7 linked regions of the Homo sapiens genome follow. The protein of the gene in region 4 interacts with the protein of the main gene of each other region in a biochemical or structural test. Each region holds a gene or a part of one and is shown on either strand. Other genes may lie near its edges.

Region 1 (4,493 bases), on a different chromosome or scaffold from region 4:
TTAACATAATCATGTTTTATTTCTTTCAAAACAAGTATGGATATATCATTAAAAATGAATCAACTTGAAATGTACCTGTGTTTCTTTTAGCAAGTCAAATGAATAAGAGGTCAAAAGTATTATATAACAGAAGGTACCTCATTTTTGGGGCACTCAAAAGGCTTTTATTGAATCTGTGCTTATTCAAAACCTCTAAATGCTATGTTGAGAGATAGAAATGCATTGAGGCATTTAAGTGAGCAATGTGCTGGTTCATGTTTTTCAATTCACATACCTCAACATGATCCACTTATCCTTTGGACACATACAATGGTAAGTGTACTAAATAAATTATATTAGATTGCTAAACCTAATATTTATAGTAGGTTGGTACTGTGTGCAGACTTGTTCCTCAATCCATACAGGTGTTCTGGAAAATGCATTTTCCTTGATAAATGGCAGCATAGTAAAAGACTATTATATTACATTCTTTTTATTTTCTCCTAAACAGTTGCTTAATTTTTAGGTGGCCTGTTCTTTGCAAAACCTATGCGTTCAAAGGGGTATGTGACCATGTTAGACCCGTTTCAGCAAATCTATGGAAAACGCATGGGCGGACTCCTGTTTATTCCTGCACTGATGGGAGAAATGTTCTGGGCTGCAGCAATTTTCTCTGCTTTGGGTAAGGACCAGCTAAGTTGTCTAGCTGCATCTTTGTAGTTAACTAAACATCAGATACACAACCTTACTTTCCTCAGCCTTGGCTTCTGAGGACATTTTTATTAAAACCATATGCTGAACCATATTTATATGCATAAAAGCTTAATGGAAATTCTACGTTTACTTGCAATATGGTGGCAGAGGTTAAATAAAACCTCAGCTACACTTTCCATACTTGAATTGCCTCATTAGACCAATAACTATGAATTATAATGATCAATTTGCTTTTATGAGTCATATATGATTTTGAACAAAGAATAATGAATTAAGCATAGCTAAAAAGTGCAGTTTACTTAACATAAATGTTTAAAACAAGGATTCATGAACCAGGGGTTAGTGAGAATACTAATACATATTTTTGGTGTTGAATAAATTTAAATAAATGATTTATATCTTAATTTCTTCCAATAAGTGTTCTTCCTGCAAACTGAGAACTTTTTACCTCCCATTGTTTTCCCTCTAATAACTGCCATGTTAATTGGCATAAACACAGATATAAAACTACCTAAACTCCTGAGACAACAGTGTTGCATGTTATTCTAAAAGCACTGATATTTTCAGAGATGTTGACTTTTTAAATAAAATGTTTAATTAAAAACATATATAAAACAGAGTCAGTTCCAGCAGTAAATAACATTCCTAAAGAAGTGAGATATCACCAACCCTCTGCTGACAGAATAGGTAAGTAATGTAAGTCACACAGCAAAACTACAAACTTGAAATATTTCCATAAATTGATATTATAAAGTTCAATGTTACGGTTTAGTAGTGGAAAAATTTAAGTATGGTAGAATATAACAAGAATTTCCCCTTCAGTTTAAATGTCTTCTCAATAACTTACATGAGAAAGCTTGCCCATGCCTTAGCGTCTCCTCGACTCCAATCTACCCTTAGAGACACAGGCTTAGATGTGTACCACATGGGACCAGTTGAGACTGTTGGACCTGACTGAGGCTGTTGAGGCAGCTGGGAGATGGAAGCTCCCCATAAAGGTGTGCACTGCCCCGCCTTCAGCACATCCAATTTCATCCCGCAGGTTAGTCAGGATTTTTTTGATTGCCAACTATAAAAAAGAGTGACTGTTGCCGAAACAAGAGTATTTGATCGTTATAAAATACAGCAAGAACTAGGTGGGGGGCCGGGCGCGGTGGCTCACGCCTGTAATCCCAGCACTTTGGGAGGCCAAGGAGGGCGGATCACGAGGTCATGAGATCGAGACCATCCTGGCCAACATAGTGAAACCCCATCTCTACTAAAAATACAAAAAATTAGCCAGGCGTGGTGGCGGGCGCCTGTAGTCCCAGCAGCTACTCAGGAAGCTGAGGCAGGAGAATGGCGTGAACCCGGGAGGCAGAGCTTACAGTGAGCTGAGATCACGCCACTGCACTCCAGCCTGGGCGACAGAGTGAGACTCTGTCTCAAAAAGAAAAAAAAAGAAACAACTAGGTGGAAAATGCTGCACTTCTCTGGTGCTGGATAATAATACTCCACATCCACTGCTGCTCTTATGTTCTAATGATATTATGTGTAAAACTACACCTCCCTTTCCACCTGACTCTCATTAGCTGAGTTGCATTGGGCGCTTGTTTGCCATTGCTTTGAACACCAAAAAATGTTAATTTTAAGAACAAATTACCTGCTGAGGTATCAAAAAAGGAGTGGGCTGAGTATATAACAAAATACAAAATGTTCACTCATTGAGTAAAGATCAACTTATATAACAGAGCCCTGAAGAAAGAATAGAATTAATAAGCAAATGCTTCTAAAGTATTTTGGAAATATAAAATATAGTAACGAAACTGTGAACTTTGTTATAATTAGTTTTGTATATATGTGTGTCTGTGTTTGTGCCTGTATTACAATATACAGTCAGCTTAAGGATGTAGATGCATTCTGAGAGATGCATCAGCAGGCAATTTTGATGTTGTGTGAACATAGAGTGTACTTACACAAACCGAGTTGGTAGCGCCTACTACACACACAGGCTATACAGTATAGTCTATTGCTCTTAGGCTACAAACCTGTGCAACATGTTACTGCACTGAATACTATAGGCAATTGTAATACAATAGCTATAATGTCACTAAGCAATAGGACTTTTTCAGCTTCATTATGATTTTATGAGAATTTATGTATTTGTGGTTCATCATTGATGGTAACATTATTACCTAATCCATGACTACATATGTAAAATATGTTATTGTCTGTATCTTTCTAAACACTCACATATATCAAACAACATATATAAAAACATTGCTGCTATTGCTTGAACTCTTTGGGAGAGAGAGAGAGAGAGAGAGAGAGAGTGTGTGTGTGTGTGTGTGTGTGTGTGTGTGAAGTTACTTACTGGGTACTATGTACATTATTTGGGTAATGAAAGCACTGAAAGTCTAAACTTCACCACTATGCAGTATACCCAGGTAACATCATTGCACCTGTAATCTTTAAATTTACACAAATAAAAAGTAATAGTTGGATTTAATTAAAATTTAGTGTTTATTACAAATAATTTGATATATTCAAGAATATATAAGATCTATTACCACCTTTCTGTGAATGTGTATAGTTCACCATTGAAACATAGGAGAATCTTAAACTATCTTCTTGGTAGAAATTGACATCCTACAACATTTTGAAGAAATGTGTATTTACACTTCTAACAGCTCAAGTTCAGTGGATTTTCATAACTTTGCAGGATACTTATTTTATAGCTTCATGAGTAGACTAATATTTCCTGGTATACCTCAAAGTATCACTTTGTTTTACTTACAATTGATTTAATTTTTCAGAAAATATTTTAGAGAAAATTTTATCTCAATTTTAATAGTGATAATGGAGAAGTGATTGACGTCTCTAATATCTCTGAGTTACAGTTAAGTGACAGCATCTACTAGGACCCCAAATCTTTGAGATTTTAGTCAGCTAATCTTTATTTTATAATTGAACTTTTCATAATTCATGGTATATAGCTTAGAAGCGTTATTAAAGTGGAGAACTACACACAAAAAAAAAGAACGACAAAGTGTTGGAAGTAAAGTTTCGATTCGAAGTAAATGATCTCAGGAAAAAATAACTTTTCAAATATCTATAAAACAATAACTCAGTCAGTTATCTGAAGTCACTCATCTATAATTATCTCTCATCCTTGTCTTCATTCTCCAACTTCTTACTAGATTTTTCTTTTCAAGGGATCTTTACTCTGGAAAATAATTCTATTTTATCACCATAGCAAAACACTGAAAAATATTTCTTACTGATATTTTGGATCAACACATCTTATATTGAGATAATGTAGTTTCATCTCCAGTGGGTTGCATATACTACTAGCATGCCAATTGAGGAATGGGGGTAGGGTGTAAGACAACTCAGCTGGCTGCAACTGATGATACATAAAATCACAGATCCATTACATGTATGCATTTAATAATGTGACATGTAAACTGTATAGTTTTGAGAACAATAGGGAAAAGGCTACTAAAGCAACAAGTGAATTATGAACTGTCAGTCCAAGAACCACAGCGGCCCAAACTGGTCATACCTCAATATGTTCAGTGGAAATATAGGGACCAACAAACACAATAAACAATGTTATAAAGAGAAACATAAATTTGATTTCTAAGAGAAGTTTAAAATGTTGATGATGAAAATTACTTAAAAATATGATATTCAAATCTTAGGCTCTTCAGTATACTGGTATCCTAGGAGCAGGACTGGTATGTTCTACCAATTAAATAAAAGAAGAGTGATCTGTCGCAAATTAAAGAGGGAGAAATTGATTAATAACATTTACCAAT
Region 2 (4,493 bases), on a different chromosome or scaffold from region 4:
GGGGTTGGCAAACTGTGACCCCAAGCCAAATCCAGCCCACCACTTGTGGTTTTGTTTTTTGTTTTGTTTTGGAGACAGAGTCTTGCTCTGTTGCACAGGCTGGCATGCAGTGATGCAATCTCGGCTCACTGCAACCTCCGCCTCCCACGTTCAAGCAATTCTCACACCTCAGCCTCCTGAGTAGCTGGAATTACAGGCACATGCCACCATACCTGGCTAATTTTTATATTTTTAGTAGAGACAGGGTTTCACCATGTTGGCCAGGCTGGTCTCAAACTCCGGACCTCAGGTGATCTCCCCATTTACCTCAGAGACAAAGCCCAAGTCATGACAATCCCTGGCAAGGTCCCTGTGACCTGGCTCTGGTATCCATTAGCCCCATCTCCCATCATCACCTCTCAGCTTTACTGCAGCCACCTTAGTCTCTGTGATATTCCCTGATCCCCCACAGCACACTCTGGCCCCAGGGCCTTTGCACTGCTGTTCCCTCTGCTGGAAAGCTCTCCCCAGGAGTCCCCAGGGCTCATCCCTCACTTCTATCACCTTCACAGAGAGGCCTTTCCTGACCACCTTATCTACCACCACAGCCACCCTACTATTGTTAGTGCACCCTACACCTGCACCTGCTTTTTCTCTTTTTTTTTTTTTTTTTTTTTTTTCTGAGACGGAGTCTCGCTCTGTTGCCCAGGCTGGAGTGCAGTGGCACAATCTTGGCTCACTGTAACCTCCACCTCCTGAGTTCAAGCATTCCTCCCACCTCAGCCTCATGAGTAGTTCAAGCAATCCTCCCACCTCAGCCTCATGAGTAGCTAGAATTACAGCCATGTACCACCACAACTGGCTAATTTTTTTTTGTACTTTTAGTAGAGATGGGGTTTCACCATGTTGGCCAGGCTGGTCTTGAACTTCTGACCTCAAGTGATCCACCCAGCTCCGCCTCCCAAAGTGCTGGGATTACAGGCGTGAGCCCCTGAACCTGGCTCCCCCTGCTTTACTATTTATTCTTCATAGCACTTTCCACCTGATGTGCTGTCTGCCTTACTTGTTTATGGATTGCCTGTCTCTGTCCCCTTCATGAGAATGATGGATCCATTAAGAGAGCAGCAACTTTGTTTTGCTCATTGCTGTTTCTCCAGAGCCTAGAACCATGCCTGGTTTATGATAACGAGGCAGTGGTTATTAGTGGAATGACTGAATGTAAGAATGAATGAATGGCTGGGTACGGTGGCTCATGCCTGTAATCCCAGCACTTTGGGAAGCCAAGGCGGGAGGGTTGCTTGAGGTCAGGAGTTTGAGACCAGCCTGGCCAACATGGTGAAGCCCCATCTCTACTAAAAATACAAAAATTAGCCAGGCATGGTGGCGTACCTGTAATCCCAGCTACTTGGGAGGCTGAGGCAGGAGAATCGCTTGAACCCAGTAGGCAGAGGTTGCAGTGAGCCGAGATCAAGCCATTGCACTCCAGCCTGGGTGTCAGAGTGGAACTCCATCTCAAAAATAAATAAAAATAAGTTTTAAAAGAATGAATGAAAGACAAGAAGGCCTAGATAGAAGGAATAAGTTAAAGTAATCAATAGTGCACAAGGGAAATTATAGTTAATGATCATTTACTTGTATATTTCAAGATAGCTAGAAGAGAAGGATGGTTGTGTTCGCAATACAAAAGATAAATATTTGAGGTGATGACTATCTCAGTTACCCTGATTTGATCATTACATATTGTCTACAGCAGGGGTCCCCAACCCCCGGGCCATGGATCAGCACCAGTCTGTGGCCTGTTAGGAACTGGGCAGGCAGCACAGCAGGAGGTGGGCAGAGGGCAGGCGAGTGAGGTTTCATCTGTATTTACAGCCATTCCTTATTGTTCCCATCACCGCCTGAGCTCCACCTCCTGTCAGATCAGTGGCAGCATTAGATTCTCATAGGAGCACAAACCCTACTGTAAACTGCACATGTGAGGGATCTTATGAGAATCTAATGCCTGATGATCTGTCACTGCCTCCCATCATCCCCAGAAGGGACTATCTAGTTTCAGGAAAACAAGCTCAGGGCTCCCACTGATACTGCATGATGGTGAGTCATTATATATTACAATGCAATAATAATACAAGTAGGCCGGGCGCAGTGGCTCACGCCTGTAATCCCAGCACTTTGGGAGGCCAAGGTGGGCGGATCACCTGAGGGCAGGAGTTCGAGACCAGCCTGGCCACCATGGTGAAACCCCATCTCTACTAAAAATACAGAAACTAGCCAGGCGTGGTAGTGGGTGCCTGTAATTCCAGCTACTCAGGAGGCTGAGGCAGGAGAATTGCTTGAACCCAGGAGGCAGAGGTTGCAGTGAGTCAAGATCATGCCATTGCACTCCCAGCCTGGGTGACAAGAGCAAAACTCCATCTCAATAATAACAACGACAACAGCAGTAATAATAATAATAGAAGTGCACAATCAACGTAATGTGCTTGAATCGTCCTGAAACCATCCCCCGGGCCATCCCCCTGCCCCCAGGTCCATGGAAAAATCGTCTTCTACAAAACTGGTCCCTGGTGCCAAAAAGGCTGGGGACCACTGCCCTACAGGTATCCAAATACCACTTGTGCCCCTCGAATAGTTACAACTATTACATATCAATGAAAACTAAAAGAAAACAATTAAAATTTAAAATACAAAAGTAGGACTGAAAAGCTGCCACTGGATGAGGGAATAGGGAAATGGATGGTGGTCTCAGTGGAGAAAGGGAAACAAGAGTTGGACTCAAAGAGATAGAGAGAGTGAGCAGGAGGAGACAGAGTGGATTGGGAAGTGTAGGTAACTCCTCCAGGAAGCGTGCTTGGGAAGTGGAGAAGTGAGGTCGGGTAAGGATGGAGGCATTGTTGGCTTGAGAGCGAGTGCCTTGGAAGCTGGGCCTGTCCCCAGGGAATAGGCATGTTGAGCTGTACCTCACCCTGATGGGCAGGTGTGCCCTGACCTGCCACAGCCTGGGCACCCCAGTTTCACCCTGTAGATGCTGACTCAGGCCACTGTTCCTTTTGTGGCCACAGGGCATGAATCTCTCCGGAGGCCAGAAGCAGCGGCTGAGCCTGGCCCGGGCTGTATACAGAAAGGCAGCTGTGTACCTGCTGGATGACCCCCTGGCGGCCCTGGATGCCCACGTTGGCCAGCATGTCTTCAACCAGGTCATTGGGCCTGGTGGACTACTCCAGGGAACAGTAAGTTTGGGAACATGTGTCAGACAGTACAGGGCAAAGGCAGAGGAAGCACTTAGCATCCAGTCCTAACCCAAGTTTATCTCACCTCCCCCTTCCACTTGAGTCCAATTTCCTCTTTGTATTGGTCAGCTTTTGCTGTGACAATGCTATGTAACAAACAACCCCCAGATCCCAGCAGCTTACAACAGCAGGTGTTTCTTCCTTATGGATCTGTGATTTAACTACTACAGCTTTGCCTTGGATGATTGGCCAGGGTCAGATGTACTCCTTGTCTTCTTGTTTTGAGACACAGGCTAAGGGAGTCCCCTCTGTTTCTCTATTTGGATATGCTGTTTACAAGAAAGGCGGCAGGAGCACAAGAAGGGGAGCTGTCCCCACTCTGAGTCCAGGGACAATACCCCCACCCCAACCCCCAGCTCAGGAGGCTGGCCAAGCACATGTGTGTAACTTTTTTCTTTTTCTTTTTTTTTTGAGATGGAGTCTCGCTCTGTCTTTCAGTCTGGAGGGCAGTGGTGCGATCTCCGCTCACTGGAAGCTCCGGCTCCCGGGTTCACGCCATTCTCCTGCCTCAGCCTCCCGAGTAGCTGGGACTACAGGTGCCCGCCACCACGCCCAGCTAATTTTTTGTATTTTTAGTAGAGAAAGGGTTTCACCATGTTGGCCAGGCTGGTCTCGAACTCCTGACCTCAGGTGATCCATCTGCCTCGGCCTCCCAAAGTGCTGGGATTACAGGCATGAGCCACTGCGCTCGGCCGTACATTTTTTTTTTCTTTCTTTCTCTCTCTCTCTCTTTCCTTCCTTCCTTTGTTTCTTTTCTTTTCTTCTTTCTTTTCTTCTCTTTCTTTCTTTCCTTTCTTGACAGAGTCTTGCTCTGTCACCCAGGATGGAGTGCTGTGGTCCAATCTCGCCTCACTGCAAGCTCCACCTCCCAGGTTTAAGTGATTCTCTTGCCTTAGCCTCCAAAGTAGCTGAGACTACAGGTGTGCGCCACCTCACCTAGCTAATTTTTGTATTTTTAGTAGAGATGGGGCTTAGCCGTGTCAGCCAGGCTGGTCTCGAACTTCTGGCCTCAAGTGATCCACATGCTTTGGCTTCCCAAAGTGTTGGGATTACAGGCATGAGCCACTGCACCCGGCCACATGTGTGTAACTTCTACCCCTTCCCTGCCCAGACACGGATTCTCGTGACGCACGCACTCCACATCCTGCCCCAGGCTGATTGGATCATAGTGCTGGCAAATGGGGCCATCGCAGAGATGGGTTCCTACCAGGAGCTTCTGCAGAGGAA
Region 3 (5,038 bases), on a different chromosome or scaffold from region 4:
GTCCCAGATCCCAGGCCACGAACTGTTTTCCTTTTCCCCGGGCAAGAGCCCCGCTCCCTTCAACTGACAGAAATTCACTGGGGCAGGGGGGCGAGTGGGGAGAGAGGTCGCTCAGGGCTCGCTACTGGCTGCGCCTCCCCCGGCTCTGGTCTGGGAAGCGGCTCTGGGCCCTCCGGGCGAGCAGCTTGGGCGCCGGCGCCCCCTGCGAGGAAGATCGCGGGGTGACGGTCGGTACCCGTTCGGCTGGGCCGCGCTGCCGCTCCGATCCACCTCCCTTCCGCGCCCGCGCCCTCCCCCTTCCTTTCACTAGGAGTCCGGGATTCGGAGAGGGCGCGGGAGGCAGGCACACGGGCCCGACCCCACTCCAGCGCTCACCGGGGACGCGGGCGGGCGGCGACGGGACGCGGCGGGGGCGCGGGGCGGGCGCGGCCATGGAGCAGCAGCGGCGGCGGCGGCGGCGGCGGCGGCAACACTAGCGACCGCGGGCGGACGAGCGGGCGGGCAGGGCCGCCGGGCTCAGCGGACCGAACTGCACAGCTCAGCAAAAGCGCCCTCGCCCTCCGCGCGCCGCCTCCTGCGAGCCCAAACCCACCAACATTTTTTAACGCTCCAACCCATCCTTTGAAGAAAAGCAAAAAAAAAAAAAAAAAAAAAAAAAAAAGCAAAAAAAGAAAAAGCATTGATCGGAGAGACGGGGATATATATATATATATATATATATATATATATATAAAATTTTTTTTGGCTCCTGCTAAAATTAGCAGGGCTCGCCGCGCGCCTGTGTGCCAGTGTGTGCGAGTGTGTGTGCGTGCGGGCGTGTGTGTGTGAATGTGATTACTCCAGGACTCCTCGGGCTCCGGAGACGCCATTTTCCCCCTTGATATCTCTCTCCATAAATCGGTGGCGCGGCGGAGGCGGCAGAGTCGGGCGGGAAGCGCGGGGCCGGCCGGGGCGCCCGCCGCTCGCCGCCGCCTCCGCGCGCCCGGGGGCCCCGGCGCCCCCCGAGCTAGGGCGGCCAGCTCGCGGCTCGCCGTTTGACAGATGCTCATCGCCATGGAGTTGCCGCAGCAGCACCTTTGGGGGCTCGGGCGAGCGACGGGAGCCGGGATCTGAGCGAGCGCCGGGGCCAGCGGAGCCGGAGCCGCCGGGACATGGGTGAGCACGCGCGGCGACCTTGGCCCGGGAGCCCGGGCGCCCAGCCTCCCTCCGCGCCGCGGGCCCCCGCACTCCCGGAACCGGGGGCGACGTGTGTGCCCTGCATGCAAAAGTTCACGTCGCCTTGCTGGGTCTTTGACTTTGCACCCGGCGGGAAGGGGGAGACCGGGCCGAGGGGGCGGGATGCCGGTCCGGGCGAGGTTGCAGGAGATGGGCGCGATTCCGGCGGGCCGGCGGGTGGGCGGCGATGCTGGCTCAATTGGAGTGGCTCGTTGGTGGCGGCGATGGTGGAAGCTTTGGGCTGGAGGGCTGGGAGCTTATTGAGTTTCGCCTAATCTGATCTACCCCCCCTCCGCCCCCCGCCTTTTGCACCCTCCCTCGGTCCTGCAGCCGGCTGGCGGGGCTGGCGGGTTTGGCGTTGGTGGAGTGGACTCGGGAGGGGGAGGGGGTAAGGAAAGGGGTGGGAAGGCAGGATTTTTTTTTTCTCTCTTTGTAACTTGCAGGTTAAGTGGAGCTAGAGAGCTACATTGTAACCTAGTTGGATTTTTTTGGGGGGGGAATGTATCAGAATCTAACGTGTCGTTAATAGAAAGAAGAACAGGCAAGAAGTGGTCCAGCCGGCGAAGGTTGGTGTGTGCTTGTGTTGTGCCTGTGTGTTAGTCTTTTTCTTAAAAATCTTAATCAATGGATTTGAGTCTCTTTCTTGTGCTCTCTGGTTTTGGGACTCTGAAAAGATAGGAATTCCCTTAAAAGCAGACGAATGCCTTTTTGAAAGCACGCATTGTGTGCGTTTCTAGAGGAGCCGTGGGCTTGGGAATGAACGGCAGGCTTCCCCGTTCGGTGGTTTCCAGTGGGAAATCACTCCGGAAAGGGAACCCTTCGGTATCGATTTATTGTTTTTGTCTTCCAAACCATTATCTCTTTGACCGAAATACTGTCTGAGAAGTTCCGCAGGGACAAAGTCAGGTAAACTGGACCGGGCAGATCTTTGGCAAGATGGTGATAACGGGGATGCTGTTTTCAGTGTCTGTTTGTGATGGAAGCATTGTTGGGTAATAGCAATTTCTGATCGGTAGAGCATGCTGGTTCTAAAAAAATAAGTTAACTGCCGAAATACTGTCTTCCAGCCCCCCTCCCCTGCACAGTACAGCACCTATTCCCCCCGCCCCCCCATCCAGACCGCTTACTACAAGTCTGAAATCGGATCCAACTGGAAATATTTTCATTGGAGATTGAAAGTTGTGCAATTGGAAATAGATGAGGCTAGAGGTATTGAGAGTGTGGAAGGGGAGTTCTTATTGCCCCCTAATGCTGCATTTATTCTTTATGTGTGTCTGTGTTGGATTCTCAGGGTGTGTATCTGTCTAAAAGGACTGTTGTGGGAAGGATTTCCGATTCGTTTCCGTTTCAAATAAACTGTCCTGATAATCTCACGGTTGACATCTAACGCTAAAAGGGCAATTTGTGTGTCTCTTTATCCCTGCAGAAACTCTCCTCCAAAAGGGCAGTTTATTCTGGAATTCTACAGCAGATACCTTTCCCTTCCAGCCCCTACACTCCCCCCACCTCCTGCCAACTATCCACACCTTTCCCCTTAAAGTTTAGTTGGAGTCCACTGGCGTTGATTGTTTTTCTCTTACATCTTTTTCCTTCTTTTTCTTTTCATTCCTTCACTCTTCATCCTGTTTTTCTTCTTTTTCTGTAGATTTATACTAAAAACTAATTTCTTGAAGTCTCTGTACTGTCACCAAAACTATCTGCCGATTTGGCACCATCTCTTACCCTCCTTTAGTAAATAGGTATATCTCCTGTGCCCCATCCAAACTCATCTTCACGTGCAAAGCATGTGTGTGTCGTGGGAGAAAGGGGATGGGGTAGAGAAGAGGTATTTGGAGAGGAAGGGCGGTGTTGTGTGCAGGCCACATCTTCAACACTGGACCAGACCTGGGCATTCCGGGGAGAGTTTCCTTTGCACACCCCAGCTGGGATGGGAAGGCGGAGCCAACCAGACAGGGGCGTGTGAGGGAGGAGAAAGTTTGTAGCACTTTAAGATGTAGCTAGTTTACCATCCCAGGTCACTCCCTCCCTTTTTTTCTGATTTCTCTGGCTTCTACCATCCTTAAACTCCCTGAGGGAGGCGTGAGCTCTTTTGCTCTGACGAGGGATTCCCAGGTGTCAGAGTGAAGGTGAGGTGCTGTGTTTTCCCCTGTGCTTAGTCTCATTGCCTGTTCCCAGAAAAGGGTATTAAGACAGAGTGTTTGGGGGAAAGTCGGAAGAGGAGGAAGAAATCAAGTGTGGTTAAACAGAGTATTTGCAAACGGCAGGGAATGTAGCCCCCAAAGATATGGAGACCAGGTACCCAGAGTGTTGCTTGGCACACGATTTCTCCTCCCCCGTTAAGGGGACAAAACCAAAACCAAAACAAACTATTGGTCTTGGGAAGTTGAGTTGGTGTTAGACCTGGGCTGTGGGAGTTGCTAGCCACTATAGTAACCTGAGCTGAGCTGGGGGAGGAGGTGGTGAGCGAATGCACCACCGGGAGCCAGAGGAGGGAAAGGGACTCGTCTCTCTTAGCTGGGAAAATAGATGTATCTCTGGAATAAACAAACTGGAGGTGGGGGAGGGGATGGCTTGCAGTGAACATAAGGTGGAGTGTCTGAGAGGCAGTAGTGTCGGTTAAGAAGGGGGCCACTTCTAGCTTGGGAGAAAATATCAACTGCCTTATATGTTCATGAAAGGGCTAGGCAAGTGAAGGGCTGTAATTTGATCTTTTGTATGTTAGCATCAGAATGTTACATAGGAAGGCTCTGCTGGAAGGCCCAGTTTTGGACATCACACAGGGGAACCTAGAGGTATCTTTAAGTTAACCCAACAGCCCCTGCTGCCATAAGGGCTTCTGGTCATGGACTTGCCTTGCTCAGAGTGAGCTACTTTGTAAATCACCTGACCTAAATGAGGGTTGGGGAAAAAGGAAACAGTGCTTGGGAGTGTTTTAGGATTTAGTTGAAAATGGTGAGTGGGGAGAGGCAGGAGGCAGGATTTTGCTGAAGAAGAAATAAATAGGTAGGTACTTTCCCCTGGATTCCATTTCTCCTGTTAACTTTGAATTCCTCTAGGGGATGAATCGATACTTGTCTGGCACAAAAGTGTACCTCTAGGAGAGGAGAGTTCTCTCAATGTGGTCATTATTTTTAGTTGTACTTCAATCTCTGCTCCAAAGCTTCTATATAGTATGCAAAAGGAAGCAGATGAGAAATAGCTAGCTGGATGGGGCATCCTTTCTGGGTTCCTGTGGAGACACTGAAACTTGGCTGGGCCTGGACCTCCCAGAATGCCAGTTTTTTCCTTGGAGACTTGAAGTTTAAATTGAAACCAGAAAGCTATTGAAGGCAGATCCAGCCAATGAAACCCTGTTTTCTCTGATGCTCAGGAATGGGAAATAAATAACTTTTTGCTGATGGCATTTCAAGTTGCTTCAGTTTTGCTCCTGCCAGAAGAATGGGGCAAATTATTATGAACACATTAGTATTGTAAGGAGGAGTTGCAGTGCTTTAAAAATGGGATGGTGTTATTGAGTTTGTTCAGGGACTCAGTGTATGTGAGAGTCCTACCAGAGGCTGGTGGTGGGAGCACAGGAGGCTGCCCTGGAGGGTTAGCAGCACTGGGTTGAAGAAAGGAAGCCTCACAGAGGTCTTGCTGCACATCATTTTGTCTGGTCCTGGGGTTCCTGTGAAGGGAGCAAAACAATCCAATTCCATTCCTATCCTGTGGCATATGTTGAAACCTAGTGAGTTTCCCAAAATGTTTTGGGCCATAAGTTTGGGCTTCTTTTAGAGTGGTTTTTAAAGGCAACCCAGGTGTTTTACAAACTCTTCATGAAGTT
Region 4 (4,493 bases):
GGTAGGTTAGGGTAAGTCTTTATGTGAGATTGTGTTCTTGCTTCACTGTCTTCTACCCTAATCTTGATACATTAGTCAGTTTCTCTGAGCCTTAGCAAAATAAAGGCCTCATAAGAGTTTTTGTAAGGTTTAAAGAAATGTTGCTACAGAGAGACCTGAGCATAGTACCTAGCACATAGTGAGTACTCAATAAATGTCAGCTTTTATAATACAACAGATATTCAAGGAATAACGGGGGAAAGTTTGCTTCAATGTTTTTCACATTAAATAAAACACAGTTAACTTAGAAAAAACAAGAATTCAGTTATTTTTATAGCCATACTAATAGGTAAGAATAATCTGATAATTAGAACTTTTTATCTATATATTTTTCTTTTTCATCAACTTGCAAGTAGCTTTATACTGTCTTCAACCATGAGTGATATTAATAATGAGTTAACTTGTTAGATGTCATTCAGTATACTATGCAGAAAATATTTTTAAAGAATATTTGGGTTAGGCCAGGCACGGTGGCTCACGCCTGTAATCCCTGCACTTTGGGAGGCCGAGGCGGCTGGATCATGAGGTCAGGAGATCGAGACCATCCTGGATAACACAGTGAAACCCCGTCTCTACTAAAAATATGAAAAATTAGCCATGCGTGGTGGTGTGTGCCTGTAGTCCCACCTACTTGGGAGGCTGAGGCAGGAGAATGGCGTGAACCCGGGAGGTAGAGCTTGCAGTGAGCAGAGACTGTGCCACTTCACTCCAGCCTGGGCGACACAGTGAGACTCCGTCTCAAAAAAATAATAATAATAATGGTGCTAATCTGCAGCAGTCCTAGAGTAGTCTGTCACCTGAAGAGAGAATTAGGAAACATCAGATTACATTTTCAGAGGTATTTTTTTTCCGTCAAGCTTCTTAGGTCCTGGAAGATTTTATGTAAATAGTTCTAGACAGATGGGACTCTTGAGGACTTTATTTTAGAAAATAAGAGAGGTTGACAAACTCACTGTGTAAAATCATTTTCCTTTTTCCTGGATACAATGTGAACAATTTGAAGTGAAGGACTGGTTAGGATATACTTTATAGTCTTCCATATTAGAATGTTTATTTTAAAAAATTTGATACAATTATAATCATGAATTTTTAATTATTTAAGCAACTTATGCTCAAAAGGTTCTGGTTGATCAGGAGCCACTGGTTGCAAGTTTTGGCTAATTATTCTTCTGCTAGTCCATCATATCATTACATGTAAATGGGAGGAAAAAAAATGAATGGTTTTGTACCATTCCCTCCTAGACACGCAAATAGAATATGCTGCTCGTCGGAGACAATGAGCACGTTGTAAATCTCCAGCAAAAGAGTCGAGTATGATTGTGTTTACATGTGAGAGCTGCTTTAGTGAGCTTTTTGTAGGATTTGCAAGATTTCGCCTGCCAAAGAAAAGTAGCTGATAAGACCTGTCTTAAGGAGGCTAGATCTTTCTGCTGCGAGAGTGGCTGGTGGATGGCATGGCCCAGGCCAGGAAACCAGGTACAGACAAAAAAGAGGTAGAGCACTTCGGGCTCACTGACATCAGATCACAGAACCATTTTATTCTGCAAATGTAGTTAGAGCATTGGCAGACATAGAGCCAGATTAGACTATTCCTCTTGTTATTAGACTTACCTTAAATTGCGGGTGTTTGCTTTTTTATTTTTTGTAGATCAGAGAGCATACCCCGTGATAATCAGATTTCAGTTTAAAAAATTATCTACAGTACTGGAGTTGATTAAAGGAGAATAGAAGTACATTTAAAGAACAGATGTGAATCCACTTTATTTAAGATAAATAAGGAAAATACTCTTACAGATACAAGTTCATTCCAGGTAGTCAGCACTGCTTGTAACAGAATTCTCTCTCAAAAGCAAACTACTTTGAAAAAGTGAACAAACCACTTTTATTGAATTCCTACTACATAATAGGAAATCAGTAAATATCTGTTGATTGGAAGAGTAAATATATTCAAAATCTAATGGCAAGAAACTATTCCACAAGCATGATTTCATGTGTACTCTGCATTAGAGTTTAGTTTTTCAAAGTTCAGTTTACTTTGATATGGTTTTTAACAAAGTACTTATGCCAGATGAGACATAGTTGATATAATATTAACAATATATTCATAAATAATGTTATGGAAGTTCAACTCTAACAATTTTAGCTGTTGTTAGCATCTAATGATATAGATTATTGTATATTTAAAGTGTGCTTCTAGATTATAAAGCTTGGCTTGTACAAGGAAGTGGAAATGGTTATTTATGGCTGAGGCACATGTGGCCATGATTCCCTAAGAGATTCCTTCCAACAGTCATAGGCCCAGGATTTCTGGAGCGCTATAATTACAGGCCAGGGATGAAAACTGTGATATCATATATACTTATAGCAGGAAAAAATCTTTAACAGAAAACTGAAAAGCATAAATACGTGTGTTTATAGTACCATATCGCAACTTGTACTCTACCGTAGAAAATGTCTGTTACTCATGCATCCATACAGTTTCCTACCTCATTTGTGATGTTCCCTCTGCCTGGAATCTCTCCACTCACATTGTCTGCTGTCTAAATCTTATCTTCCAAGACCAAGGCCGAATAAAATGTTCTGACCACTCACAACCAAATGTTAACTGTTCCTTTCCATAGCACCCTAGAGTACCTTTACCACCTGCTGCATTGCATTATAATTATTCCTTAGTTCTTTCTGACAAAATTGTAAGTCCCTCAAAGGCAGAGGCAGTGTAGGAAGTGCCATCCTAATAATCAGAAGACCCGAGAGATTCCAACCACTAATAGTTTACCTTAACACCTGTGGGCAGCATCTCTTGCCGCTGTCAAATGAGGCAATGAAACTCAAGATCACGTAGACCCCATTCACTTTTCCATTCTTCTTAGTGCCTTCCCCTGGTACACAGTAAACATCTGTTGAACACAACATTTGGGATGGATACAAATTTAAGCCGAGAAAGAGACCAATGCCCAGGAAAAAGTGTTCTTTCCAACAGAAGCAAATGTAGTTGTCCTGCTCTAGTTTTAGATATGTATCGCACTTATGTTCACAGCTAAGTACACTGTGGCTAAATAATCAGTGGCTCTGTGTGTTCATCTGGTTTCTCTAATGAGTAGAGGCATGATACAAATATGACTTACTGGATAATATTTTTAGATCTTCCCATTTTATATGAATATATGTATGTATCTTATGAAAATTTTTGGGCATTTTCAAGTGATTCTTTAGTGCTAACGGCAAATAGCTAGATGGGTTATATTAGTTTACAGTATTCAGAACAACAAATAACTTTAAAAGGACTTATGAAGAATACAGATATGAACTAGGACAAGCTAAGCTGATTGAATTGTGAACAATTGGGAGGCATTTGTGAATCCAGTTCTGAGAACTTTTGTCGACTGTGAAAGACAAAACAAATCTCATTTATTTTCCGCTTGGTAACAGTTTATTTATTCAAGCCATGACGAAGCCTAAGTGATTGTGGTTTTCGCAATTAAAAGTAACGGCAGAACCCACAATTGCTTTTGCACCAAGCTAACAGACGAGAACTGCCACAGGTCGCACTTTATGGCAGGCAGGGTCCACTGAAGCCCTCTTTTACCACCCTTCCTGCCATTTGGGATGTTTCTAACTATACCTTTATGTGTTTTTCCTAGGGCCTGGATTCCTTCTGAAAACATTCAAGATATCACAGTCAACATTCATCGGCTGCACGTGAAGCGCAGTATGGGTTGGAAAAAGGCCTGTGATGAGCTGGAGCTGCATCAGCGTTTCCTACGAGAAGGGAGATTTTGGAAATCTAAGAATGAGGACCGAGGTGAGGAAGAGGCAGAATCCAGTATCTCCTCCACCAGTAATGAGCAGGTGAGTGTGTCTCCGGAAGGAAGTGCCTATTCATTATTACTTTTAAATGCAGAAATCTTAGTGCACACTCCTCACTGTAATGAACAGATTTTGACGTTCTCCTTCCCTTTTTTACATTTGTAAAGTGCTCTGCAAAACTAAACCAAAAGCAGTTCAAATGAATACATAGATGTAACAATCAATGACCTTGACCCTGCCAGTACCAAGAGAGTTAAGTACAAGTGCTCCTCTCTGAAGGTGCGCTGGCTCTTTCAAGCCTACAGTTACCAGAACAGTAAATTAAGTCAGTGGTAACTGAGTGGATGGAAGGATGCAAAAGGTAGAAATGTATTCACTTCTCACCTGTGGGTCCACTATGAGTGTTTTCAGCAGAGAAGTATTTTCTAGTGTCTGGAATAATATATTACTTTTATAATGCCCACAGCTAAAGGTCACTCAAGAACCAAGAGCAAAGAAAGGACGACGTAATCAAAGTGTGGAGCCCAAAAAGGAAGTAAGTTGCCCACCTCGCAGTATCCAGGTGGCAAATGAAACAGGAAATATTTTCAAAGTATTTTGTATTTTCAAAGTATTTCAAAGACAGTCACTCTTGGTGGATACTTGTG
Region 5 (4,493 bases), about 100 Mb from region 4:
GGGGACAGAGCAAGACTATCTAAAAAAAAAAAAAAATGTCGGGCGCGGTGGCCCACGCCTGTAATCCCAGCACTTGGGGAGGCCGAGGCAGGTGGATCACGAGGTCAGGAGATCGAGACCATCCTGGCTAACATGGTGAAACCCCATCTCTACTAAAAATACAAAAAAATTAGCCGGGCGTGATGGCGGGTGCCTGTAGTCCCAGCTACTTGGGAGGCTGAGGCAGGAGAATAGCGTGAACCCAGGAGGTTGAGCTTGCAGTGAGCTGAGATTGCGCCACTGCCCTCCAGCCTAGGCGACAGGGCAAGACTCTGTCTTTAAAAAAAACAAACAACAAAAAAAAACAACCATGGATTACAGTGAGATGTGAAGAGGGACAGTCAGGGAAGGGTTATATAGAAACTAATCCCCTAAGCTGAGGCTTGAGAAACTCTATCAGGTGGTAGATTTAGGGAACAGGGCATTCTAGGAAGACAGAGCATCTTGAATGAACTGAAGAAACAAAACCAACTGGGTATGTTTTGGGGAATTGTGAGAGGCTTGGTTTGGCTGGAGTGTAGTAGCTGATCAGGGCAGTGGGCAGAGGTAAAGCGAGAGATAAAACTGGAGTGGTAAATAGAAGGTCAGATTATTGGGACCTCGAATGCCATATTAAGCTCTTTGGACTTTATCCTGTGCATTGAAGAAACTTTGCCAGATTGGTTTTTGGGTGCTCCATCTAGCAGGAATGTAGAAGACAGGTGGACTCTGAAGCTGCAAGTGGGGAGACGATAGATGATGACTGCATGAGTGCAGGAAAGATGCAGCCTAGAAGTCAGGCAGTACTCGGGGGAAGGGGCGGATCTGAGAATGGAGAGCTTAGACTCTAGGACCTGGCTACTAGGTTTGGGTAGTGAGAGGATGAGGGCTTCAGGAAGACCCTAGCTGGCTGGATTTCTCTTGCTGGTCCCCAAGTTGGGGAACATGGGGAAGGGGCAGTTGAAGCAGTGGGAAAAGTTGGGCTGCTTACCTTGCTTGGTGTACTTTGTGAGATGAGGTGGGGGTCTCTGGAGGCTATATACACGGTATTTGGAAGCGTAGAATCGGATCTCATCCTGCTATCTCCATCCTCCCTCCCCACCACAGGGCTCACCCCTCCAGCTACCCCTCCCCACCAGTTATGGAAGCCCCTGGCTGCTGTCTCACTGCTGGCCAAAGCCAAATCTCCTAAGTCCACCGCCCAGGAGGGAACCCTGAAGCCTGAAGGAGTTACGGAGGCCAAACATCCAGCTGCAGTTCGCCTCCAAGAAGGGGTCCATGGCCCTAGTCGAGTCCATGTGGGCTCTGGGGACCATGACTATTGTGTCCGGAGCAGGACCCCCCCAAAAAAGATGCCTGCCCTAGTCATTCCAGAGGTGGGCTCCCGATGGAATGTCAAGCGCCATCAGGACATCACCATCAAACCTGTCTTGTCCTTGGGCCCAGCTGCCCCTCCGCCCCCATGCATAGCTGCCTCCCGGGAGCCGCTTGATCACAGGACTAGCAGTGAGCAGGCAGATCCCTCAGCACCCTGCCTTGCCCCATCCAGCTTGCTGTCCCCTGAGGCCTCACCCTGCCGGAATGACATGAACACTAGGACTCCCCCTGAACCCTCAGCCAAGCAGCGGTCAATGCGCTGTTACCGAAAAGCCTGCAGGTCAGCCAGCCCCTCAAGCCAGGGCTGGCAGGGCCGCCGAGGCCGCAACAGCCGTTCTGTCAGCTCTGGGTCCAACCGGACTAGCGAAGCATCTTCCTCATCCTCATCATCGTCTTCCTCATCCCGATCTCGGTCCAGGTCCCTCTCCCCCCCACACAAGAGGTGGCGAAGGTGAGCTTTGATGGCCCTGTAGGTCCTCTCCATTTAGGAAGTTCACGTACTTCTGTGGTTTACTTTGAAAGCTTTTACCCGTTGACTTTGGTACTTTCAGGCGCTAAGGCTTCTATTTCTGACTTTGGCTTTTGTGTTTTCCCTTTTCCTGGATTGTTGAAGGAGGCAAGCTGTGAGACAATTGCTTCTGTCCCCTGTTGGAGCTTGGGGTGTCAGGTCTCCTGCTTCTTTGAGACCTGCCTTGGGGAGACTTTTAGGGTTTGATTTTGACCATGTTGATTTTTTTCACATACTGTATCAGCCTTCATTTTTGGTATTCTGGGCGCTATGTGAGGTAGTGGGTTACTTGTTAATAGAAAATAGTTCTTCCCTTAATCATCTGCTGAGGAAGGTGTCTGGGGCAGTTCCTTTGGGTGTCACTATGGCCTCATCTATTTCCTGGCAGTATCTTTTTTTCTCAGTAACCAAGTTTTCCCACTTAATGAAGAATTCTTGGGTTTTGGAGATGATATATGTCTTCAGAACTGGCCCATACTACAAGTCTAGCAGTTAACCTCTCTCATGGTCACAGTATTTCAGTGAGACCTGGTAGGGGAGCAATAGTAACCCAAAAGACCCAGGCTTGGCCCCAGCACCACAGATAGCTGGGTGTGAGACCTAGGGCTCACCCCTCTCCCTGAGTCTCCATTTATTGTTCTTCCTCTTTCTGATTTGTTAAATATTTTTCAATTTTTAAGTGCACAATTGAAAATGTGATCTCTTCCAAAACACTTCACAACATTCCAGGTACACCTAAAGTTCCATGAAGGGCCTCAGTTTGTTCATCTCTGAATGAAAATTGTTCTTCTAGACCTCTTCTACTCTGCTTTGTCTTTGGTCCTGAGCTTCCTAAAAGAAAGGCAGGACTGGGGCCTGGGTGAGATAAGCAGAGTATACCTGAACCACTCCCAGCATTCCTGCATGCCCTCTTATCCTTCAGGTCCAGCTGTAGTTCCTCTGGACGTTCTCGAAGATGCTCTTCCTCTTCTTCGTCATCATCTTCCTCTTCGTCTTCCTCATCCTCATCATCCAGTTCTCGAAGCCGCTCACGATCCCCATCCCCCCGCCGGAGAAGTGACAGGAGGCGGCGGTGAGCATGTGTTCAGGGAGCGCCATGCACCTGGGATGCAGGTGCCTAAGAGTTGAGTCTTGAATTGTCTTATGTTTGGGGGGCTGATGACACCCTCTTTTGTCAGGTACAGCTCTTATCGTTCACATGACCATTACCAAAGGCAAAGAGTGCTACAAAAGGAGCGTGCAATAGTGAGTAGAGGAACAGATCATGGGAGGATGGGGCTTACCCCCTGAGCCTTGAGCTCAGAGAGCTGCCTGCAGCTGTAGCCCTGGCTAATGGTGTGTTGATTTTTTTTCATTTCCAAACATAGGAAGAAAGAAGGGTGGTCTTCATTGGAAAGATACCTGGCCGCATGACTCGATCAGAGCTGAAACAGAGGTTCTCCGTTTTTGGAGAGATTGAGGAGTGCACCATCCACTTCCGTGTCCAAGGGTAAGCTTGGGCCCCAGGCTCAGGATGTTCTTTCTATCCCATTCATCTACCTTGGTGTTTCTTTGTCTTGCCTCCTTGCTCTGGTGTGCTGAGCAATATGGGGCACCTTCATTTCTGCAGTCAGAGGGTTGGCCACTGGGAATGAGAAGAACCACCTCTGTACCTTGGGATGCTGTGTCTCCTCTATGGCATGGGCCCATATAGCCACTCCAGCCCCTGCCTCACTCTCCTCCTACTAGGGACAACTACGGCTTCGTCACTTATCGCTATGCTGAGGAGGCATTTGCAGCCATTGAGAGTGGCCACAAGCTGCGGCAGGCAGATGAGCAGCCCTTTGATCTCTGCTTTGGGGGCCGAAGGCAGTTCTGCAAGAGGAGCTATTCTGATCTTGGTGAGTGGAGGGAGGGCCTAAAGCTTTGGAATGCTTCATCCCCTCCCCAGAAGGGTTCCTAACCCTTTGTGAGTGGGGCTAGGCAGACTTACCTTAGTTTGACATACAAAGAACCCAAGGGGGCTGGGCATGGTGGCTCACGCCTGTAATCCCAGCACTTTGGGAGGCTGAGGCAGGCAAATCACGAGGTCAGGAGTTCGAGACCAGCCTGGCCAACATGATGAAACCCCATCTCTACCAAAAATAGAAAAAATTAGCTAGAGGTGGTGGCACGCACCTGTAATCCCAGCTACTCGGGAAGCTGAGGCAGGAGAATTGCTTGAACCCAGGAGGCGGAGGTTGCAGTGAGCTGACATCACAACACTGCACTCCAGCCTGGGCTACAGAACGAGACTGTCTCAAAAAAAAAAAAAAAAAAGACCCAAGGGGTGGGACGAGAGGAGAAATGGGGACTGGGGACTCTCCTATCTCTTTGACTTAAAATTAGAGCAGTTTTCACTCCATCCGTTTTTGGGATGGGAGATAGCTAGCCATTTGCAGACCCTGTGGTTGGGAAGTGTGGTCAGAGACCTTGAAGTTTGTCTTTACCTTTATAGACTCCAACCGGGAAGACTTTGACCCAGCACCTGTAAAGAGCAAATTTGATTCTCTTGACTTTGACACATTGTTGAAACAGGCCCAGAAGAACCTCAGGAGGTAACCTTGGGCCC
Region 6 (3,987 bases), on a different chromosome or scaffold from region 4:
GAGCCACTGCCAGGCCCCGTGGACAGTGCTGGCTGCTAGTGGTCAAGTCGCTCCACCCCTCCTGCTCCAACACGCGCAAGGCTCAGTCCCAGAGCCAGAGAGAATGTCCGCGGGAGGCAGAAGCGCTGACCGTTCCGTGTCAGCAGGATCCTGAGCGGAGGAGACAGGGGGCAGCCGTCCTGGGGGGATGGGGTGCACAGACCCCCAACAGCTTCACCCCTGAGCACCAGCTGCTAGGAAGGAAGGGGCAGGAGGCAGCGCGGTGAGCTCGGCAGGGAAGAGGATGGAGGGAGCGGCCGAGGATGCAGGGGGCCAGAGAGTGACCACGGAGCACCCAAAACCCTCTGTGCCCATGGATAGCTTTCCCGTGTTGGCTCAAGAAAAACAAAGCAACTAAATGTTAACACACAAAAGAGCCAAACATCTATCCAATGTCACTGCTACAAAAAGTAAGAGAAGAAACAGAACGAACAGCTCTTCTCAAGTTAACATAAAACTTTTTTTTGCGACAGTCTCCCTCTGTCACCCAGGCTGGCGTGCAGTGGCGCGATCTCGGCTCGCTGCAACCTCTACATCCCAGGTTCAAGCGATTCTCCTGCCTCAACCTCGCCAGTAGCTGGGATTACAGGTACCCGCCACCACGCCCAGCTAATTTTCGTAGTTTTAGTAGAGACGGGGTTTCACCATGTTAGCCAGGCTGGTCTCCTAACCTCAGGTGATCTGCCTGCTTCGGCCTCCCAAACTGCTGGGATTACAGGCATGTGCCACTACGCCCGGCCTGGATTTTAAGTAATTATTAGAAAGTCTGGTACTTGTGTTCCCAGCTGGAGTTTACCCTGGAGGATGGTAAAGGCATGGGCCCCATGTGGTCTTTGCTCTTCGGTTGTTGAGACACCATTTATTGCAAAGCCTATGCTTTCCTCAGTCTCAAAAAAAAAAAATCCAGAGCCATTAAAGAAAATATTAATCAACTTAACTATTTAAAAAAATAGCTTTCACATAACAAAAATCACAACAAGCAGAACAAGAAATAGCCGCCAGGCTGAGACCACCATTTGTATCCTCCATCACAGATGGAGCTGGTCTCCCCCGGCACCAGGGTTAGCGGAAAATGGTCAGGAGACATGAGCAGAGTCCACTGAAAAAGCAATGCAGACGTCCTCATGCTTTGTAAGAGGTCCTCGTCCTCACCCACATTGAGACGGAGGTGCTCCCACCCGTGTCACCGAACTCCAGCGTGACACCCTCTGTGGGGGGCTGTGGAGAAGTGAGCACCTTCACGCCATTGGCAGGAGGGAAGGTGGACGGCCCCCATTGAGGAGGTCGCCGAGATTTATCAGCATGACAGCTGCACCTACCCTCTACCCAGCAGTCTCTCTCCTAGCTGGATATCCTAAAGATGCGCTGAGGATTCAAAAGGAAGATGCGTGCAGGTTGTTCACGGAGGAGTTATTTATAGTAGCAGACGGTTGGAAATAACTCAGTTTCCATCACTAGGGACTGGCTGGGTTGACCGGGCAGTCAGGAGCGATGAAGGAATTCAGAAGAGCTCTGATCCCCTTGGGTATCGAGAAAACACCAGGATAAATTATTAAGTTTAAAAAAACAAGCAAGGGGCTGGGCACGGTGGCAGAAGCCTCCTCATCCCAGCACTTTGGGAGGCCAAGGTGGGCGGATCGCTTGAGCCCAGGAGCTCATGACCAGCTCAGGCGACAGAGTGAGACCCTGTCTCTGAAAAATAAAATAAGTAAATACATAATTAAAAAGCGAGGTACATGGCTGGGCACAGTGGCTCACGTCTGTAATCCCAGCACTTCGGGAGGCCAAGGTGGGCGGATCGCTTCAGCCCAGGAGCTCATGACCAGCCCGGGCAACAGAGTGAGACCCTGTCTCTGAAAAATAAAATAAATAAATACATAACTAAAAAGCGAGGTATATGGCTGGGCACGGTGGCTCACGTCTGTAATCCTAGCACTTTGGGAGGCCGAGACAGGCAGATCACTTAAGGTCAGGAGTTCAAGACCAGCCTGGCCAACATAGTGAAACCCTGTCTCTGCTAAAAGTACAAAAATTAGCCGGGTGTGTTGGCATATGCCTGTAATCCCAGATGCTCCGGAGGCTGAGGCAGGAGAATCACTTGAACCCAGGAGGCAGAGGTTGCAGTGAGCCAAGACTGTGCCACTGCACTCCAGCCTGGGAGACAGAGTGAGACTCTATCTTAAAAAAAAAAAAATGGCAAGGTACAGAATAGTGATTCTAGTATACAAGCTATTTTGTAAGAAAGAAAAAAAAATTATCATCTGGTTGCCCATAAGAGGAGCAGGTCAGTCAGGCATGAGACCACAGCTTTTCTGAGCTCGTCTTTTATAGTTTGGCTTTTGAACCACATAAATATTTTATATATTCAAAAAATACCATTTTAAAAAGAAAAAAAGCACCAAGCCCTAAAATGGAATACAACCAGAGGCCATTAAACTTAATGGGGTATCGAACCCAGAGGATAACCCCACACAGAAAGGGGCCGACTTCGATGGCGTGTGGCCGTCCCCTGCTAGCAGAATGCATGCTGAAGATAAAAGGGAAGCCTCAGGCTCACTCAGGAGATGGCCCCTGGGTGGTAATATTGTCTCTTGTAATCGTGAACAATTATATGCATATTGTAAGACAACATGAAGTAGGAGATATATTAAATGTCACAGGAAACAAAATAATTGGAGTAGGAGTGGGTGAAGCAAACACAAGAGAAGTGAAGAAAAAACCCTGGGCCGGGTGTTGTAGCTCACTCCTGTAATCCCAGCACCTGTGGGAGGCCGAGGACGCTATCCCCCTTCAGACAGTGACTCCATGCCCCCATCAGACAGTGACTCCATCCCCCATCAGACAGTGACTCCATTACCCCATTAGACAGTGACTCCATCCCCCGTCAGACAGTGACTCCATCCCCCGTCAGACAGTGACTCCATCCCCCGTCAGGCAGTGACTCTATCCCCTGTCAGGCAGTGACTCCATCCCCCGTCAGGCAGTGACTCCATCCCCCCATCAGGCAGTGACTCTATCCCCTGTCAGGCAGTGACTCCATCCCCCTGTCAGGCAGTGACTCCATCCCCCCATCAGGCAGTGACTCCATCCCCCCGTCAGGCAGTGACTCCATCCCCCGTCAGGCAGTGACTCCATCCCCCATCAGTGACTCCATCCCCCATCAGACAGTGACTCCATCCCCCATCAGACAGTGACTCCATCCCCCATCAGGCAGTGACCCCATCCTCCATCAGACAGTGACTCCATCCATCCATCAGACAGTGACTCCATCCATCCATCAGACAGTGACTCCATCCCCCATCAGACAGTGACTCCATCCCCCATCAGACAGTGACTCCATCCCCCATCAGACAGTGACTCCATCCCCCCATCAGGCAGTGACTCCATTCCCCATCAGCACACGCATGTTGACCTGGAGCAAACAGCTTAATACAGGTCTTCTAATGATTTGGGTGCAAAACCACTTATACTGGAAAAAAAAAAACAAAAAAACAAAAAAACACTAGGTATCTAAGAAATACATCTAGCTACACGTGCCTGAGCCTCAGAAGTCGTGTTGGAGATAAGCTCCTACTGGGTCAGCTCAAAGTAACAGGACTTTGAATTCTCCTTAAATTCACCTGTTAAACTCAATGCAGTTCTGATGCAAATCCGAAAAGCATGTCTCATAAACCCAGGACAGATTCTAAAATGGGCTCAGGGACAGAGTGGGTCCCAGGTCCCTGTGAAGCAGGTGGTGGCCCCAGATACAGGGCGGAATCGAGGCCCCGAGGCCCTGGGGCCAGGCTGGCATTGGGGAGCACGGTCACCGCTGCCCAGGAACAGCGGAGGAGGTGCCTCCTGGAGCTGTCCCTGGAGCCAGCGCCCCCAGAGTCCCAGGCAAAGCCAGCAAGGGCCAGGCCAACACGCAGAGCACCACATGTCTGGGGGGCTCTGAAATAAAATACA
Region 7 (3,995 bases), on a different chromosome or scaffold from region 4:
TTCAGGGGTCTTCTGCTATGTGGAAAAGCTCAGGGCCCAGGATAAGTCCACTGACATTAAAAATTAAAAAAACTGAATTCAAGGCTGGGTGCAGTGGCTACTGCCTGTAATCATAGCACTTTGGGAGGCCAAGGCAGCTGAACCACTTGAGGTCAGGAGTTCGAGGCCAACACGGTGAAACCCTGTCTCTACTAAAAATACAAAAAAAATTAGCCGGGTGTGGTGGTAGGCGCCTGTAATCCCACCTACTTGGGAGGCTAAGGTGGGAGAATTGCTTGAACACTGGAGGCAGACGTTGCAGTGAGCTGAGATTGTGCCACAGTCTCCAGCCTGGGCACCAGAGCGAGACTCCGTCTCAAAAAACAAAATAAAACATTGAACCCACAATACAGAGTTTTTTGTTTGTTTCTGAGACAGGGTCTTGCTCTGTCGCCCAGGCTAGAGCGCAGTGGTATGATCAGAGCTCATTGCAGCCTGGAACTCCTGGACTCAAGTGATCCTCCCGCCTCAGCCTTCCCAGTAGCTGGGACTACAGGTGAGCACCACCACCACGCCCGGCTAAAATTAAATTCTTTTGGTAGAGATTGGGAATGGTGGTGTGGAGTCTCGGTATGTTGCCCATGCTTGTCTCCAGCTCAGGGTTTCAAGACATCTTCCCGCCTTGGCCTCCCAGAGTTGGAATTGCAGGTATGCGCTACCGCACCCGTGCCAGATATCTACTTTTTATACAAATTAATATTTCAGGGAACTCTCGAAGGTAAAAGTAGTCACAAAAAGCTGCAAGAGTTGCTGTGTCCCAGAAGGGAGTCCGGGATGGGGTCGGCGACCCTCGCCCGCACTCATACAGGCCAACTCCGGTCCGAGTTTGGAGGCAACGGAACACCGGAAATGCTGTGCAGGTCTGAGTGGGAGGTCAGGGCACACTGGACCGTTACCTTAAAGCTGCCCCATTTATGGCCAGGTGCGGTGGCTCATGCCTGTAATCCCAGCACTTTGGGAGGCCGAGGTGGGCGGATCACGAGGTCAGGAGTTCGAGACCAGCCTGACCAACATGGTGAAACCGTCTCTACTAAAAATACAAAAATTAGCCGGGCGTGATGGCGCGCGCCTGTAATCCCAGCTACTCAGGAGGCTGAGGCAGGAGAATCTCTTGAACCTGGGAGGCGGAGGTTGCAGTGAGCCGAAATCGCGCCCCTGCACTCCAGCCTGGGCTACAGAGAGAGGCTCAGTCTCAAAAAAAAAAAAAAATGCTGCCCCATTTGGCGCCCCAGAATGAGGACTGACACACTGGGCAATGGGCATCGCAGCGCTAGCAGGACTAAGATTCCTCTGGGTAACTCAGCCATAGCAGAGTTTTCAAGAGGAGGAGTGGCCCTGATGAGGACCCGTAGGGCTTCAACCGACCCCAGCTCAAAAACACTTCGGCTTGGGGGCGGTGCCAAGGCTGTGAGTGCTTCCAACACTTCGGCTTGGGGGCGGTGCCAAGGCTGTGAGTGCGGAAGCCTGCCGGAAACCTGGGGACGGAGCGAGGGAAATGACGCCTGGGAGCGACAACAGGGTGGGTGGGGCTGCTGACTCCGCCCCCGAAGGAAAGGGTTAACGGTTTCCGGTAGCGGCGTCTAGGAGGGGCGGGGGAAAGGAGGCGGCAGCCAGGCTGTGTCCCCTGACCGTTGGAGCGTCTGCGACCCCCGCATCCCCGCACCCTCAAGGCACCTCCAAAGATGATGATGGGTTGTGGGGAGTCAGAGCTGAAGTCGGCGGACGGGGAAGAAGCCGCGGCGGTCCCGGGGCCACCCCCGGAGCCCCAAGTCCCGCAACTCCGAGCCCCAGTGCCCGAGCCCGGCCTGGACTTGAGCCTGAGCCCGCGGCCCGACAGCCCTCAGCCGCGGCACGGCAGCCCCGGGCGGCGGAAGGGGCGGGCGGAGCGGCGGGGCGCGGCTCGGCAGCGGCGGCAGGTGAGCGGGGGAGGCTGGCCCCCGGCCCGCGACGGCCTCGCGCCCACCTGGTCACTGCCCTGCCCTCTGCTCCCAGGTCCGCTTCCGCCTGACGCCGCCCTCCCCGGTGCGGTCCGAGCCGCAGCCTGCGGTGCCGCAGGAGCTGGAGATGCCCGTGCTGAAGAGCAGCCTGGCCTTGGGCCTGGAGCTGCGGGCCGCAGCCGGGAGCCACTTTGATGCTGCGAAGGCCGTGGAGGAACAGCTGAGAAAGTCGTTCCAGATCCGCTGCGGCCTGGAGGAGAGCGTGTCCGAGGGTGAGGGGGGCGGGCGGCCGGCCGCGTGCGGGAGTCGGGGTGAGGCGCGCCACTCACCTCCGTCCCCGCTGCGCTCTCAGGGCTGAACGTGCCGCGCTCCAAGCGGCTCTTCCGGGACCTGGTGAGCCTGCAGGTGCCGGAGGAACAGGTTCTGAATGCCGCGCTCAGGGAGAAATTGGCTCTCCTGCCGCCACAGGCTCGAGCCCCGCACCCAAAGGTGATGGGGTCTGGGCGTGGGGCTTCCTCCATGTACCCCCTTACCCGGATCCTTCCTCCCAAAGTGTAACCTTGCTTTGGGCCCAACCTCCCAACAGGAGCCACCTGGGCCTGGGCCAGACATGACCATCTTGTGTGACCCAGAAACGCTATTTTATGAATCTCCACACCTGACCCTGGACGGTCTGCCCCCTCTCCGACTTCAACTCCGGCCCCGCCCTTCAGAGGACACCTTCCTCATGCACCGGACACTGAGGCGATGGGAAGCGTAGACCCCAAAGATCCCTGGAGGGCTAGTTCGTATTTTTGTGTTAAACTATTTGTTAGAATAAAGTAATTTTGCTAATAAATGGGACTCTTCTTGGAGGCCTAAAATGGGGTTAAAAGCTCTCTAGGGGGTTATCCACTTAGCCTCAGGTTGGAAGCTGCCTGGAAGTCGGGTTTGGGGGCCTTTTTGGAACTTGGTAGAGTCATGGCAAGTGGAAAACACTGTCCACGTTAGAGGTTTACTTAGATACCCCTCCGTTCACAACCTTACCTGCCTCTCCCTGACTTCAGCCACAGCTACTGCCTGTTTTTGATCAGGTAGCGATTGTTCTCTGCATCACTTATTCTGATCTCTCAAAATGCAGAGCCCAGCCTATCACACTTCACGAAAACCTTCCATGATTACCTGTCTCAAGGAGCTTGCAAGCCAGCTGTCTGCACTGAGTTACTGAAATTATCTCCTTGCTTTTTACCTTTAAGAGCCTTGCCCATCCTGTTTACACCTGACCTGAATACTCAGTATGTTCGAAGTTCCAGTAACACCTAACAAGCCCCCGAAGAGCTTCATGTTGTTAATTGCCTGTAAGTCTGATTCCACAGCACAAAAAAGGTGCTGGCCCGTCCCTGGGCATTTGATCCAAAGCACTTTTGCCTACCTCCACCGTCAACTCTTTCCAAGTTAGCCTTCTGGCCAGGTGCAGTGGCTCGCGCCTGTAATCCCAGCACTTTAGAAGGCCGAGGCGGGTGGATCACCTGAGGTCAGGAGTTTGAAACCAGCCTGGCCAACATGGCGAAACCCCCGTGTCTACTAAAAATACAAAAAATTAGCTGGGCATGGTGGCGCGTGCCTGTAATCCCAGCTACTTGGGAGGGTGAGGCAGGAGAATCACTTGAACCTGGGAGGCGGATATTGCGGTAAGCCGAGATCACACCACTGTACTCCAGCCTGACGACAGAACAAATCTCCATCTCAGAAAAACAAAAACCAAAAAGTTAGCCTTCTGCCCAAAACGTCTACGGGGTTTTTCTGGGGAGGGAAGGCAGACTCCAAGTTCCACACCAAAATTTGCATTACACACCTTTTCCTGACTAGGCTTCTGTGTACTTGCGTGTGGACTTGACTAGTGTTCAACAATCAGCTCAACCACTGAAAAACGTGTCTTCCTTGAGATGGAAGATAAACAGCACAGGTTCTGGTGGGAGGCACCACCCATCCCCCACCAGCTAGACAGTACCGAGACAGGTGTGGGGGCCACTGCCCTAG

What was found.
Region 1: the proteins of ZMYND11 (region 4) and SLC5A7 interact in a surface display test, tested with the Homo sapiens proteins (one large-scale study listed by IntAct).
Region 2: the proteins of ZMYND11 (region 4) and ABCC6 interact in a surface display test, tested with the Homo sapiens proteins (one large-scale study listed by IntAct).
Region 3: the proteins of ZMYND11 (region 4) and SETBP1 interact in a surface display test, tested with the Homo sapiens proteins (one large-scale study listed by IntAct).
Region 5: the proteins of ZMYND11 (region 4) and PPRC1 interact in a surface display test, tested with the Homo sapiens proteins (one large-scale study listed by IntAct).
Region 6: the proteins of ZMYND11 (region 4) and MLC1 interact in a surface display test, tested with the Homo sapiens proteins (one large-scale study listed by IntAct).
Region 7: the proteins of ZMYND11 (region 4) and PPP1R35 interact in a surface display test, tested with the Homo sapiens proteins (one large-scale study listed by IntAct).

What each region holds. Positions count from the first base shown.
Region 1 is NC_000002.12:107,992,467-107,996,959, forward strand, and holds part of SLC5A7 (high affinity choline transporter 1), read left to right. Parts: intron 1-490; exon of another isoform or gene 491-505; coding exon 506-661; intron 662-4,493. UniProt on the Homo sapiens protein: High-affinity Na(+)-coupled choline transmembrane symporter. Functions as an electrogenic, voltage-dependent transporter with variable charge/choline stoichiometry.
Region 2 is NC_000016.10:16,177,511-16,182,003, reverse strand, and holds part of ABCC6 (ATP-binding cassette sub-family C member 6), read left to right. Parts: intron 1-3,038; coding exon 3,039-3,206; intron 3,207-4,377; coding exon 4,378-4,493.
Region 3 is NC_000018.10:44,679,241-44,684,278, forward strand, and holds the start of SETBP1 (SET-binding protein), read left to right. Parts: upstream 1-1,647; 5' UTR 1,648-1,781; intron 1,782-1,803; exon of another isoform or gene 1,804-2,121; intron 2,122-5,038.
Region 4 is NC_000010.11:243,086-247,578, forward strand, and holds part of ZMYND11 (zinc finger MYND domain-containing protein 11), read left to right. Parts: exon of another isoform or gene 1-2,936; intron 2,937-3,680; coding exon 3,681-3,888; intron 3,889-4,312; coding exon 4,313-4,381; intron 4,382-4,493. UniProt on the Homo sapiens protein: Chromatin reader that specifically recognizes and binds histone H3.3 trimethylated at 'Lys-36' (H3.3K36me3) and regulates RNA polymerase II elongation. Does not bind other histone H3 subtypes (H3.1 or H3.2).
Region 5 is NC_000010.11:102,145,547-102,150,039, forward strand, and holds part of PPRC1 (peroxisome proliferator-activated receptor gamma coactivator-related protein 1), read left to right. Parts: intron 1-1,125; coding exon 1,126-1,846; intron 1,847-2,825; coding exon 2,826-2,975; intron 2,976-3,081; coding exon 3,082-3,148; intron 3,149-3,270; coding exon 3,271-3,392; intron 3,393-3,631; coding exon 3,632-3,783; intron 3,784-4,379; coding exon 4,380-4,483; 3' UTR 4,484-4,493. UniProt on the Homo sapiens protein: Acts as a coactivator during transcriptional activation of nuclear genes related to mitochondrial biogenesis and cell growth. Involved in the transcription coactivation of CREB and NRF1 target genes.
Region 6 is NC_000022.11:50,064,440-50,068,426, forward strand, and holds part of MLC1 (membrane protein MLC1), read right to left. Parts: intron 1-3,987. UniProt on the Homo sapiens protein: Transmembrane protein mainly expressed in brain astrocytes that may play a role in transport across the blood-brain and brain-cerebrospinal fluid barriers. Regulates the response of astrocytes to hypo-osmosis by promoting calcium influx.
Region 7 is NC_000007.14:100,434,101-100,438,095, reverse strand, and holds PPP1R35 (protein phosphatase 1 regulatory subunit 35), read left to right. Parts: upstream 1-1,598; 5' UTR 1,599-1,721; coding exon 1,722-1,955; intron 1,956-2,031; coding exon 2,032-2,248; intron 2,249-2,328; coding exon 2,329-2,465; intron 2,466-2,562; coding exon 2,563-2,736; 3' UTR 2,737-2,814; downstream 2,815-3,995.